Linked DNA regions of Homo sapiens. The protein of the gene in region 1 interacts with the protein of each later gene in a biochemical or structural test. Each region holds a gene or a part of one and is shown on either strand. Other genes may lie near its edges.

Evidence for each region.
Region 2: of the proteins of PRKAB1 (region 1) and ACACA, one has a biochemical effect on the other in vitro, tested with the Homo sapiens proteins (one study listed by BioGRID).

The regions. Positions count from the first base shown.
Region 1 is NC_000012.12:119,671,120-119,678,152, reverse strand, and holds part of PRKAB1 (5'-AMP-activated protein kinase subunit beta-1), read right to left. Parts: intron 5,853-7,033; coding exon 5,689-5,852; intron 4,190-5,688; coding exon 4,096-4,189; intron 3,814-4,095; coding exon 3,699-3,813; exon of another isoform or gene 1,727-3,698; intron 1,617-1,726; coding exon 1,483-1,616; intron 1-1,482. UniProt on the Homo sapiens protein: Non-catalytic subunit of AMP-activated protein kinase (AMPK), an energy sensor protein kinase that plays a key role in regulating cellular energy metabolism.
Region 2 is NC_000017.11:37,084,492-37,088,869, forward strand, and holds the end of ACACA (acetyl-CoA carboxylase 1), read right to left. Parts: intron 2,949-4,378; coding exon 2,825-2,948; 3' UTR 501-2,824; downstream 1-500. UniProt on the Homo sapiens protein: Cytosolic enzyme that catalyzes the carboxylation of acetyl-CoA to malonyl-CoA, the first and rate-limiting step of de novo fatty acid biosynthesis.

The sequences.
Region 1 (7,033 bases):
GGCCACTCTCAGCTTGTCTATTCCCAGCAGCAGTCTCCATCAGAGAAGATGGCTAGTGATGCCTCCCTTTTCTAGAAAAAACAAAACCTGGCCAGGCACGGTGGTTCACGCCTGTAATCCCGGCACTTTGGGAGGCCGAGGCGGGTGGATCACGAGGCTAGGAGATCGAGACCATCTTGGCTAACATGGTGAAACCCCATCTTTACTAAAAATACAAAAAATTTGCCGGGCGTGGTGGCGGGGGCCTGTAGTCCCAGCTACTCGGGAGGCTGAGGCAGGAGAATGGCGTGAACTCGGGAGGCGGAGCTTGCAGTGAGCCAAGATGGCACCACAGCACTCCAGCCTGGGCAACAGAGCAAGACTCCGTCTCAAAAAAAAAAAAAAAAAAAAACAAACCTCACTAGCTTAGGAGGGCACTGAAAGTCATCTTACCCACCAACCTTTGTAAAGTTAGAGCTAAGGGAAGCAGTGTCAACTAAGTGCTTCTAAGGCAGAAGCTACATGTCCTTGAAACTCTTCACCTGTGACCTATTTGAGACTGTTGCCAACTCAGTGCTGGAAAGATGGTGGGCCCTGCCAGCTGAGGCGTGCTGTCCTTACCACTGGCCTCTTCTGGGCCTATACCAGGATGGCTACCCAGCTGCAGGGGCACTCCCAGCACAGGAGGTGACCTGAGAAAGGCAAGCCCTGTTGGGTACCCTGTAGGGTAACAAGCACTGAGACCCTGTCCTGGCAGCCCGGCAGGGACCACTGTAGGGACACCTGCATGTGTACACGTGCATTCCTCGTCTCAGCACACATGCCCTCCACTTCAGGGTGGAGTGTTCAGTAGCAGCATGGTTACTTTAAGCACCTCGTAAACAATGCCTCTTAAGAGGTAGCTTGGACCAAGCTGAATTCCTGGATTCCCAAGAATTACGGCTGTGCCATGCATCCCAGAGCTAGGCGGACTGGGCAGGCAATCCAGGTTAGATGGAACAGAAAACAGAATCACAACAGAACTGGCTGTTCTTCAAGATCCAGGAGGACACACACTTCTTTTCTGCATGTAATAATTTCCCGGAGGAGAAATGTGTGTTACCTAGATATCCCAAATTTTGATCCAGGAGTACTGATATTTCTAAAAGCAATTGAATGATTAAAACTAGATTCTAAAATGTGGGGGCCAGAGCATGTAGCTTACTAAGAAGAGATGGTGATACAGTTTGTCATGAAATGTAAATTGAACAGGGCTTAGACTGAGGCAGGCGTGAAGGACAAGGAAGAGTAGTGCAGAAAGGCTTTGCAAGACGAGGCAGCGGTGTCCACACTGGGAACCTCTTGTTATCAGCCCATCCCCACAGCAGAGGTGAACGGCACAGTTCACACTAGGGGGTGACACTGAGCTTGCTCACCAGCTGCTTTGCAAGAGGTGGACACAGGAAAGAAAGCAACTGAACATGACCCACGGCGGATGGTCCGGGCAGATGCCCACATACTTACGGAAATCCCCGTGTCCTTGTTCAGGATGACCTGGAGGAGATGTGGGGGGAGAATAGGGGGTGCCCGAAAGCGCTCTTCGGGTTTGCAGACGTAGGGCTCCTGATGGTAGGGTCCTGGGGGAGAACTGGACAGCTCTGTTGGGAGATGGTAACAGGACTTTACTTTGAAAATCAGGCATTCTAGGAGCAGCCTTACTTATGTTGTCATCATCTCATTTTCCTTGTCTCTTGTTCCCTCAATGCAGATTTACATTCTCTTGAAGGATGCACTGGTTCCAAGAGTGCAGAATAGAGGAGAGGAGAAAACCCTTTTGGAATCTGGGTGACTAGCATACAACTCAGTAGTCAACTCAGATGCCCTGGTGGAAGACACGGCCCAGCCAGTGAGTCTGCGTCAGATCACAAGGAGGCTATTCTCGATAACTTAATCCCACACGCACGGCAGAATAAGACTTCCTTCTCCCTTCAGGCTGGGCTGGCAAAACCACAAAGAAGCTGGAGGCTAAGTGAGGATTGAGTAGCTAAGTCCAAGTTATGGGCACCCCCGGCCGCAATGCAACAGAAGATGAGGCAGTCTGTTTACACAGAGGCCGTGGAGAAAACAGGCTAAACGAGGCACATTTCAAAATGGGGGGGAAAATTGAAAGCCCAATATCTAAAGGCTCTTTAACTCCATTACACTCAAGTTCCTTCCAAACTCTTGCTTGAGTATCTGGATTATTCAGATACACTGAGAAGCTGCTACAAGAGCAGGATTTCATAATGCTAGAACACTGGATAGTGACGTTTGGCCAGCCAGAAGGTACCAAGCCATCATCCAAAGAACGCGTGGGATGGTTCTGGTCGCCAGATCCTGGGACTGGTCCAGGGAAAATCTGCTATGCCCCAGCTCTGCCAATTCCCTCAATGTCATTTTTCAGGGGACAAGCCCCGTTTATGTGACCCAACCATATCACAGCAAGAAACTGAGAAAAGCATGAAGTGCAGAAAACTGAGCCATAAGGAGTAAATAACATTTTGAGGAAGTAAGTGTCGAAACAGAAGTCTGTAGAGAACGTGGAATTAGCTTCGTATCAGTGAGGGGTCCGTTTCCTTTCCCTAGGTGGAAATTTGACTAAAAAGCTTGTAAGTGGCTTAAAATTACATGTATCAGTAAGTTATATATTTTGGAGGATATTTGGGCACACTTCCTCCATTCCCTGATTCTCAACTATCTGCAAAAAAACTAGATGATATCTCTAAAAGACTAATTACCCAGATAAAAGCACAGATTTCGGATTTCCAAGTCCTGCTCAACAAACTGTCAACCACAGTGAGCCCATTGTGATCATTTTACCACTGTGATTTCTGAACTGGTAACAAGAAATCCTGGTGGCAGAACTTCCAGGCCTAACTAGACAATGATGAAGAACTCTCCTGTCAACGAACGGAATCTGTTTTCTTAGGGCGCCAGATATTCTGCCAGGGCATCTTTCCACTGCCTCCCTCAGAGTCCAGGAATTGTTAAGCCCCCGCCTCCAAGAAGGGGAACACTTTAGATCGCAACCCTCTTCCCCCGAACTGTATGAATCATGTTCCAGGTAGTTTCTTCCTGTGGGGCTTGGAGGGAAAGCAATTTATTGAAACCTCGATGCCTGAAAGGCTCTTACAAGATGGAGAAGTTTTACTGGGTCTGTATTTCTGTACCAAATAGCTTCCCATCAAGGAGAGTTGGGCTGTGCAGGCTGTTTCCCGTGGGGAGCCGCATCCTCCCCAAAGGGATTCTGACAAGGTGCTAATGTACCACATAAGTGACTGCTAAGGTCACTGAGGTGTCCATTTACACCTGTCAGGCTGAAATTCTTCAGGCACCACAAGTGGGATGAGACACAGGCTTCCCCAGTGCTGGGCTGTCACTGACTCAGTGCCACCCTCCAGGGCCTCTTCAGCCCTGCCCTTGGCACGAGATCAAGCTATGGTTCCATTTCTGCTGTCTGCGTTCTGTGGCCAAGCAGACCTACTGAATACCTGAGATGACCAGGGAAATGACTTGTAGCTCCCTTAGGGCTAAATTTCAACAACCTGACAGGAATTAAGTTCTGTGGCCTTTAAGTGGGGGCTATAAATGCCTATCTGACTGGGCAGCTTCAGCTCAAGAGAGGCAAGAGAAACAAGAGTATGTCTAGACTGTACAGCCCCCACCTGCACGCATGTGGTATAAAATAACTGTGTTCATACCAGACACATCGGAGCACTTTTGGGAATCCACCATTAAAGCATCAAATACTTCAAAGTCAGTTTTCTTCACTTGAATGATGTTGTTAACTGTGCCAAGCTGGCTGGTTACTATGGGCTGGGAAGAGACAGATAGGCAGAAATCATAACGTGGAAGGTCTGCGGAGTTATTCTTCAGAGGACTTGGAATTCCTGGCTGGAAGGCCTCATCTCCTGGCTAGCCACCCTGCTCATCTTGGTCAAGTATGCCAACTGTCTGACAGGTAGTGCTGCTACTCAGCTCTGCCACACACGGGGACTTTTACTAGCTGGGCAAAGGGACCTAGCGGCAATCTCTTGGGAAGGTGATTTGTTTGGAATGTGCGGGCACCCAGAGGACCAGAGGTGGGAGGAAGAGTACCTCGGAAGGGTCGTGCGTCCACTGACCATCCACAAAGAACTTGTACTGATGCTCTCCTTCCGGCAGATCCAGGATGGCTACAAAGTTATTGTGGCTGCAAGGAAAAAGGAAGCAGAGGACTTCCGTGGGGTGGGCTGCCCCCCGAGCTTACTTGCCAAACCAGCTACAGAACAAAACGTTTCCACATAAAACCAAGAGTTCAGCTGCAGGAGAACAAACATTTTTAGCCCATTTAGACAATTCAGCATAATGACCTCAATCTGAAAAGGCTATAAGGAAGCAGCAGTGCGACACAGTTTCCTGAAAACTCACCTTACTCAAATACCAGGAAACCACATCCCTAATGTTAAAAGGTCAACAGTCAGGCATTTGTGCGTCTCAAGCTCGCAAGGCTCCTGGATGCCAAGGAGGATGACAACACAAGATAAACAGAAGCTGCCTCGTTTTACCCTTTGTCACTTTGCCTTGGGCAGGAGAAGGGATCAATTGAATAGGAAGCTCAAATGTTCTCTAAAGAAACTTGCCTAATGACTGAAAAACCAAACTCCGGAAGAGCCCCTTCACTGGGTTGTTTTGTCCCCTGGCTTGAACTGACCTGTGACTGCTGTGCTGAGTGGCTCCCTCCTTCTCCAATGGAAACGCTGGAAAGCAGGCAGCCCCTGACAATAGGCCTGACACTTTCTCCCTCATTTTATCAAGAATACTCACTAAAGGTGTTCTCTCACTGACAACTTAAGACAGAAGTCCATGCTGGGGTTCCTGATAAAATGTCTTACTATAATCCTTGCTAATGACACCTACATAGCATGTATTTTTCTTTTCTTTTTGGAGACAAAGTCTTGCTCTGTTGCCCAGGCTGGAGTGCAGTGGTGCAACCACTGCTCACTACAGCACTGACCTCTCAGGCTCAAACAATCCTCCCATCTCAGCCTCCCGAGTAGCTGGGGATACAGGTGTGCACCACCATGTCCAGCTAATTTTTAATTTTTTTGTAGAGATGGGGGTCTCACTATGTTGCCCAGGCTGGTCTTGAACTCCTAGCCTCAAGCAATCCTCCTGCCTCAGCCCCCAAAAGTGCTGAGATCATAGGCATGAGCCCCCATGCCCAGCCAACATGTACTTTTCAAACAAAGTATTACGCAGAGTCAAAGTTAGATGAAACCTCAGAGATGATCTGGTCCAATATTCCCTCTTTACAGAAACGAACGCTGAGGCTCAGGTTAACTAACGTTAGGTGACTGACAGCATGGCCAATGTGGGCTCAAATGTGGGTTTCTAAGATTCCAGCCCAGTGCTCCCTTACTGCATTAAGACAGATTTTTGTGTTTCTGTGGAAAAGTCCTGACCGAACAGATAGCTGAGGATCTGAAGTGAAAGATGTCTGTGACACAGAAATATTCTCTTTCTTCTGTACTCTAAACCTAGAGACCACCAAGGTTTAACATTTGAACCTTAAGACTTATTAAGCAAAATTATTTTTCCACTAGGCATCCATTTTATAGAAACATCCATTTTCTGTTCTCTCTCAGAGATGTTTTAGAAAGAAGAGAATTTATGTTAAGACAAATATGTGAACACTCCCCAGGCAATTACCTTCTGGTGAGGGGAAGTTTACTCCAGTTGTTGAAGGACCCAGATAAGTAAACTTCCTTTCCGCCCCCCGTCCATCGAAACACCGTTGGCCGAGCCTGGGCGGGAGCTTTATCATTCACTTCCAGATCATGCTGCCAGGCCAGGAATTCCTCCTTCTCTGGTGCCTAGAAGCAGAGCAGTTTACTCAGAAAGCCATAAGCGAGCTCCCTACAACAGACAATATTGACAATTCATTCTAAAGACGCAGCTGTTACTATCTTGGTTCATGGTTAGGATCGGAAACTTACTAGTGGTGCCTCAGTTTCCTTGCCTGCAAAATAGAAATATATTTTTTAAGGTTGTGAAGACTGAGACAGTCCATGTAAGTGCTCTATATAGTGTCTGACACAGTGAGTGCTAATTATTAGCTATTGTTGTCATTAAAGAAGTTGACATCAAAATTCTAGAAGAAGCTATGAAACACACTTGGAAGGGGCTACTACGAATCCAAGACTAGCTTAATGTCATGTTCCTCCCTTAATCAAGCAAGATTTGAAGTACAGTCATGTGCATGATGTCTTAGTCAACGACGGACTGTGTATATGGTAGTCCCATAAGATTATACCATATTTTTATTGTTATCTTTTCTATGTTTAGATACATTTAAGTACACAAATCCTTAAATATACTTGTGGAATAAGTGTCTACAGTATTCAGTAGAATAACATGCTGTACAGGTTTATAGTCCATAAGCAACAGGTTACACCATATAGACTAGGTGATACGGTTTGGCTCTGCGTCCCCACCCAAATCTCACCTTGAATTGTAATCCCCATAATCCCCACGTGTCAAGGGCAGGACCAGGTGGAGGTATCGATCATGGGGGCGGTTTCCCCATGCTGTTCTCTGACAGTGAGTGAGTCTCATGAGATCTGATGGTTTTATAAGCATCTGGCATTTCCCCTGCTTGCTCTCATTCTCTTCTGCCGTCCTGTGAAGAGGTGCCTTTTACCATGATTGTAAGTTTCCTAAGGCCTCCCCAGCCATGCGGAACTGAGTCAATTAAACCTCTTTTCTTTATAAATTACCCAGTCTCGGGTATTTCTACATAGTAGCATGAGAACAGACTAGGTTTGTGTAAGTACACTCTATGATGTTCACACAATGATAAAATCACCTAATGATGTATTTCTCAGAATATGTCCCTGTCATTAAGTGATGTATGACTGTACATGAAAATTTAAGAGGAACAATTCTAGAGCTGTCAACTTGAAAATAGGCAAATCCAGATTTTGAGGAAGGGAAAAACTACTCACAAAGTTCTGTCTAGGGACTGGGGAATAAAGCAAGACAAAGACTGAACCCT
Region 2 (4,378 bases), on another chromosome or scaffold:
GCGGCCCCAGTGTTTACACTGAGTTATCAGAGCACTCTCAACTTCCTGTATGCTGAGAAGGGACTTCTGAGGAGGACAGTGGGCTCTGGGCTTCCAAGGCCTGGAGCTGTTATCCTCACTAAACAGCTGTGGTCTTTCTTGTCCCTGCTCTAAAGACATTCTCTTTTGGAGGGGACATTCCTGCCAGGACTCCCATCCAGCTCTCAGCAGGAAGAAGTTTCCCATCCTGAAAAACTCAACAGAAACTAAAAAACTGACCCTCTGCTACGGGGTTCCCGAGCATTTGTAGCCTTTCAGAGTTTGACCTTGATTCAGCGGATAAGACAGGGCTGGCCAAGGCCAGCTTTTTACTGCCTACCCATCATCTTTATGCAAGTTCAGGAGACAAAGGGCTTTAGGTGTTACAGGGCCATGGAGGGGCTTGCCCCACACTGAGCCCCTGCTGAAAGCAGAACAAGAAATGAGGTGGCTGGGCATGGATTGAAATGACAAACTGTAACTCTTCTACAAATGTAGAGGTTTATTTCAACAAAATGTGTAAAGAGTGCATCTGAAGCTCCTGCTCATCACAGTATGTGTCCATCAAATTCTGAGACAAGTGAAGGCTGTTTTGTGAACGAAGAGAACAGATAATATGGCGGTCTCCGTCCAAGCAGGTCTTGGTCAATATCCATCATTTATACTCCTCCTGCCTTAGTAGCCTTGCATGTTTGAGGGGCTGTGGGAATGTCAGATTGCTCATGTTCTGTGCCTCCAACTTGAAAAAATCCTTGTCCAGGGTAAGACCTACAGTAAGGAGCTCTGGGGATGGGGGAGGAGGCATTACAGGGTTCTAGAGAGGAAACATACTCGTTTGTGTCATAATTTGGTGGGGAGAGGGGAGGTAAATGAGTGTAACCCACCCTGCCTCTGAAGACATGCCTGGACAGGCCTCCTGGGGGGTGCAGGACTTCATACCACTTGTAGATATGTGGGATTTGATTTATTGCAAAAAAGCATAGAAGAATAATCTGGTCAAAAATGAATCCAATTCTTACTAGGTAAGCAAATAGCCAGCAATGGTCAATGCATTTTCCTGGACTGAGAATTGTCCCCCACCACTTTATGCCCTTTTCTGAAGGTGCTGAACACCTGTACCTTCCACCAGGGCAGCCGGGCTGAGGCTCTGACTCCTGGGGGCTGTCCGCTCCATACCCAGCCATACAGTGCCCACCTGCAACCCAGAACCATTGAAAAGTCCAGCCAATCTATCCGCACAGATTCCTCCTGAAGAAGGGGAGGTGGAGCTCGTTCTTGTGTGCAAACTACAGGGTTAAGGCTCAGAACTGTGGCTTGTCCAAGAACGTTCATACCACTGCTTCTCAAATGTCTTAGTGATTTCCTCCTTGGTCATCAGTGACAAATGCAGTTAGCTGCACTAAAGGAACCGGATGCTACACCAGCCCTGATCACCTGCCACTCTTGCTTTAGGAACAGAGGAATCAGTAAGTTCTTTTCTTGAATAAACTAGTTGTTGAAAGTAAACTCTCTCCACCACCTGAGGAAGCCCCTGATGCCAGTCAGGAGGGGCCAGTAAGCCTGGAGGACAGCAGCACCATGACTGAGTTGTAAATAATCTTAAGGTCATGTGGATTCTGTGTTTCCTGGAAGCCTCCCTCATCAGGAAGGCCAGCTCCTGGTGCTGAGGGTGTAGCTGTCACCAGGGTCCTTTCAGAGCTGTGGGGAGACCTGCTGCCTGTCTACACTCTGGGGAAGAGAGTAGAACCGTTAGCTGCTAGGACAGTAATCCTGGAACTAGGGAAGAGTGAGTGTGGAGGCACCATTAACCTCTCAAAACCATCCAAGCTCCAGGCTTCATAGGAACAACTTTCCAAGTCCTCAAAACAAACAGACTATCTATCTATCTCACTGGCTCTCCACATGGCATAAATAACTAGTTTCCACCAGTGCAGAAAGGGCAGTTCTCTTCTGGCTCCTCCTCTGCCAACTCAGGCTTCACCACCTGTGGAACTGCTGGGGCCCCTCAAGCACTGGCCTTGCAGCTCCCAGCCACATGCGACAGCTAGTCCAGCAGTGACGTGCAGGCGAGAGGCAGGCCAACAACTACCTTTCCCTTTGTCCTCAGAGACTGAACCCAAGGTTGAGGTCCCCTAAATCAAGAATAACTGGTTCTATTTTCTTTCTCTGCTTCTTGGCTCACAGTTTTGCCCTCATCTTTGAGTTCCTATGGAGCTTGTAGTAGATTTTATGCTCTAATTTTTCTTCATAAAAGGTACCGTAGTGTGGTTAAACTGGGAATCATTCCTCTCCAGTGCCTACTGTGTGCTGGGCTAAGAGTCGGGGTAATAAACAATGGACTTGAGGCTTCCTCCTCTCCTTAGCCCTCCTCTGCTGCCTGTGGCTGCGGCTCATGGGGCCAGGAGTGAGGGGGGCTGCTCACTGCTGGGCAACTCCTCACGCTTCCCCATGCTGGGAGGCCAAGGGGCTGTCAGGACAGGAGGGGCAGCCCTACTTTGGTTAGTAAGACCTCATGGTACATGTTTGTACCTTTCATTGCCTTCTCAGTCCTGTGCAGGGAGTGGAGGACTAGGCCTGGCCAGGGTAATAAATACTGAATGGGGTAGGTGTGACTGGTGGGCTGGAGGGGGATTCTGTGATCTTACATCCCAGGATGTCATGCATAACCTGAAACGAGAGGAAGTAAAATGCCATTTGACTCCAGTGCTGGGTCTCCTGTGCCTTCTCATTACAGTGGTTACAGTTGTAAAAGGCAGCTCTAGCCCTTTTCTCCAGAGACAGGGCAGGGACAGGCAGGAAGCTCTTCCTACGTGGAAGGGGAATCCATTGTGGAGAGGATCCGTATGACTTCTGCTCGCTGAGTGGGTGATATGTGCTGCGTCATATGGATGATGGAATCCATGGCAACCTCTGGATTGGCCTGGACCAAGCTGGAAAGGAAGATTGAGAATGGTGAAGAAAAGAGAAGCAGAAGTGTCTAGATGAGGACAGCTAAAGAACTGCCCAATAAACATGTGTGCACCGTCCACTGCAGACATTTTAGTCACGCCTCACCTTATTTGTTTCCCTATATTACAAATATCCAGCCAAGGTAGTGCAAGACAAACCCAAAACATTTTGCTATGTTGAAAAAGGAATTAAACCCAAAACAAAACCCAAAAAAAACCCAAAACATGCCAATGGGGGCATGTCACAAAGACAGCAATTGGGGCATCAAAAGCAGCCCAGCAATGAATTATAAATCAGTAAAAAATAGAACTTCATGAGTCTGTACCAATAATGTATATATAAAAGAATCGGCAGGAGTGAGGACTGAGTGGTGACTGGTAATTGTGGAGGGTGTGCTGGAGTTGGAAAGTTATCATTTTGCAAGCTCATCGTAAAGACTGCACCAGAGGGAAATTTTGATGAAAGCAAGATACTTGCATGGCCTTAAAATGTCTTCCTGCAGACTACTTATTAGGTGCAAGGGGGGAAAATCAGTAATTATACGGTAGAGAAATGGAGCAACATCTTGACCAGCGGATGAAATTAACACGAGGAGGAGCAGATAAACAGCATGTGCCCCCAGATGTGGTGCCCTGTGAAGGTTCTGGCCAGAGTGCCTCACCTGCATCTCATCATGGGGAGACATCAGACAAACTCAAAATGAGCAATGTTCTACAGATGGTAGATATCAGATAAAAGTTTTTAATCAATGTTAAATTTACAAAAGTGGATCATTTTATGATGGTTATGTAAAAGTATCCCTATTCTCAGCAAATGCACACTGAAATATTTGGGGGTAAAGGCCATGATATATGTAACACCCTTAAGTAGTTCAGAAAGAGGAAAAATGTATACACATATGGGAGGGCAGGCACACTCATAAGTGATATAGCAACGGGGAGAAAATGTAACAGGTAAATCTGAGTACAGATATTATATATAGGGGTGTTCTTTGTACTGTTTTTAATTTTATAACTTTTCTGTAAGTGAAATGTTTCCAAATAAACTTTTACAAAAATGCCCCTGCAGTCTCTACCACCGATCCTATGGAGCAGACTGAAGCCTCTAGAAGAATACAGCTAACTCTTGGCTTCAGGAGGTGAGGAGGTGGTTTCCCAGGAAACCACCACACACACAATCAGCTTTCCTCCCAGAGTTGTTCATCCGGTTTGAGTATCAGCATTCAGAGCTAAGAGGTGGGCACAGTGAATTAAGCCTTCATCTAGCTGAGATTACTAAGTGCCCCTGGGGAGCAGTAGCTGAAAAAGAATTGGGCTTCAGGCCATATCTGTACCTGTGGGTCAACTACAGCTGTCTCAAACAGCAAGAGACTGCAGAGATCATAAGATTTCTGCGATCATCTCATGATTTG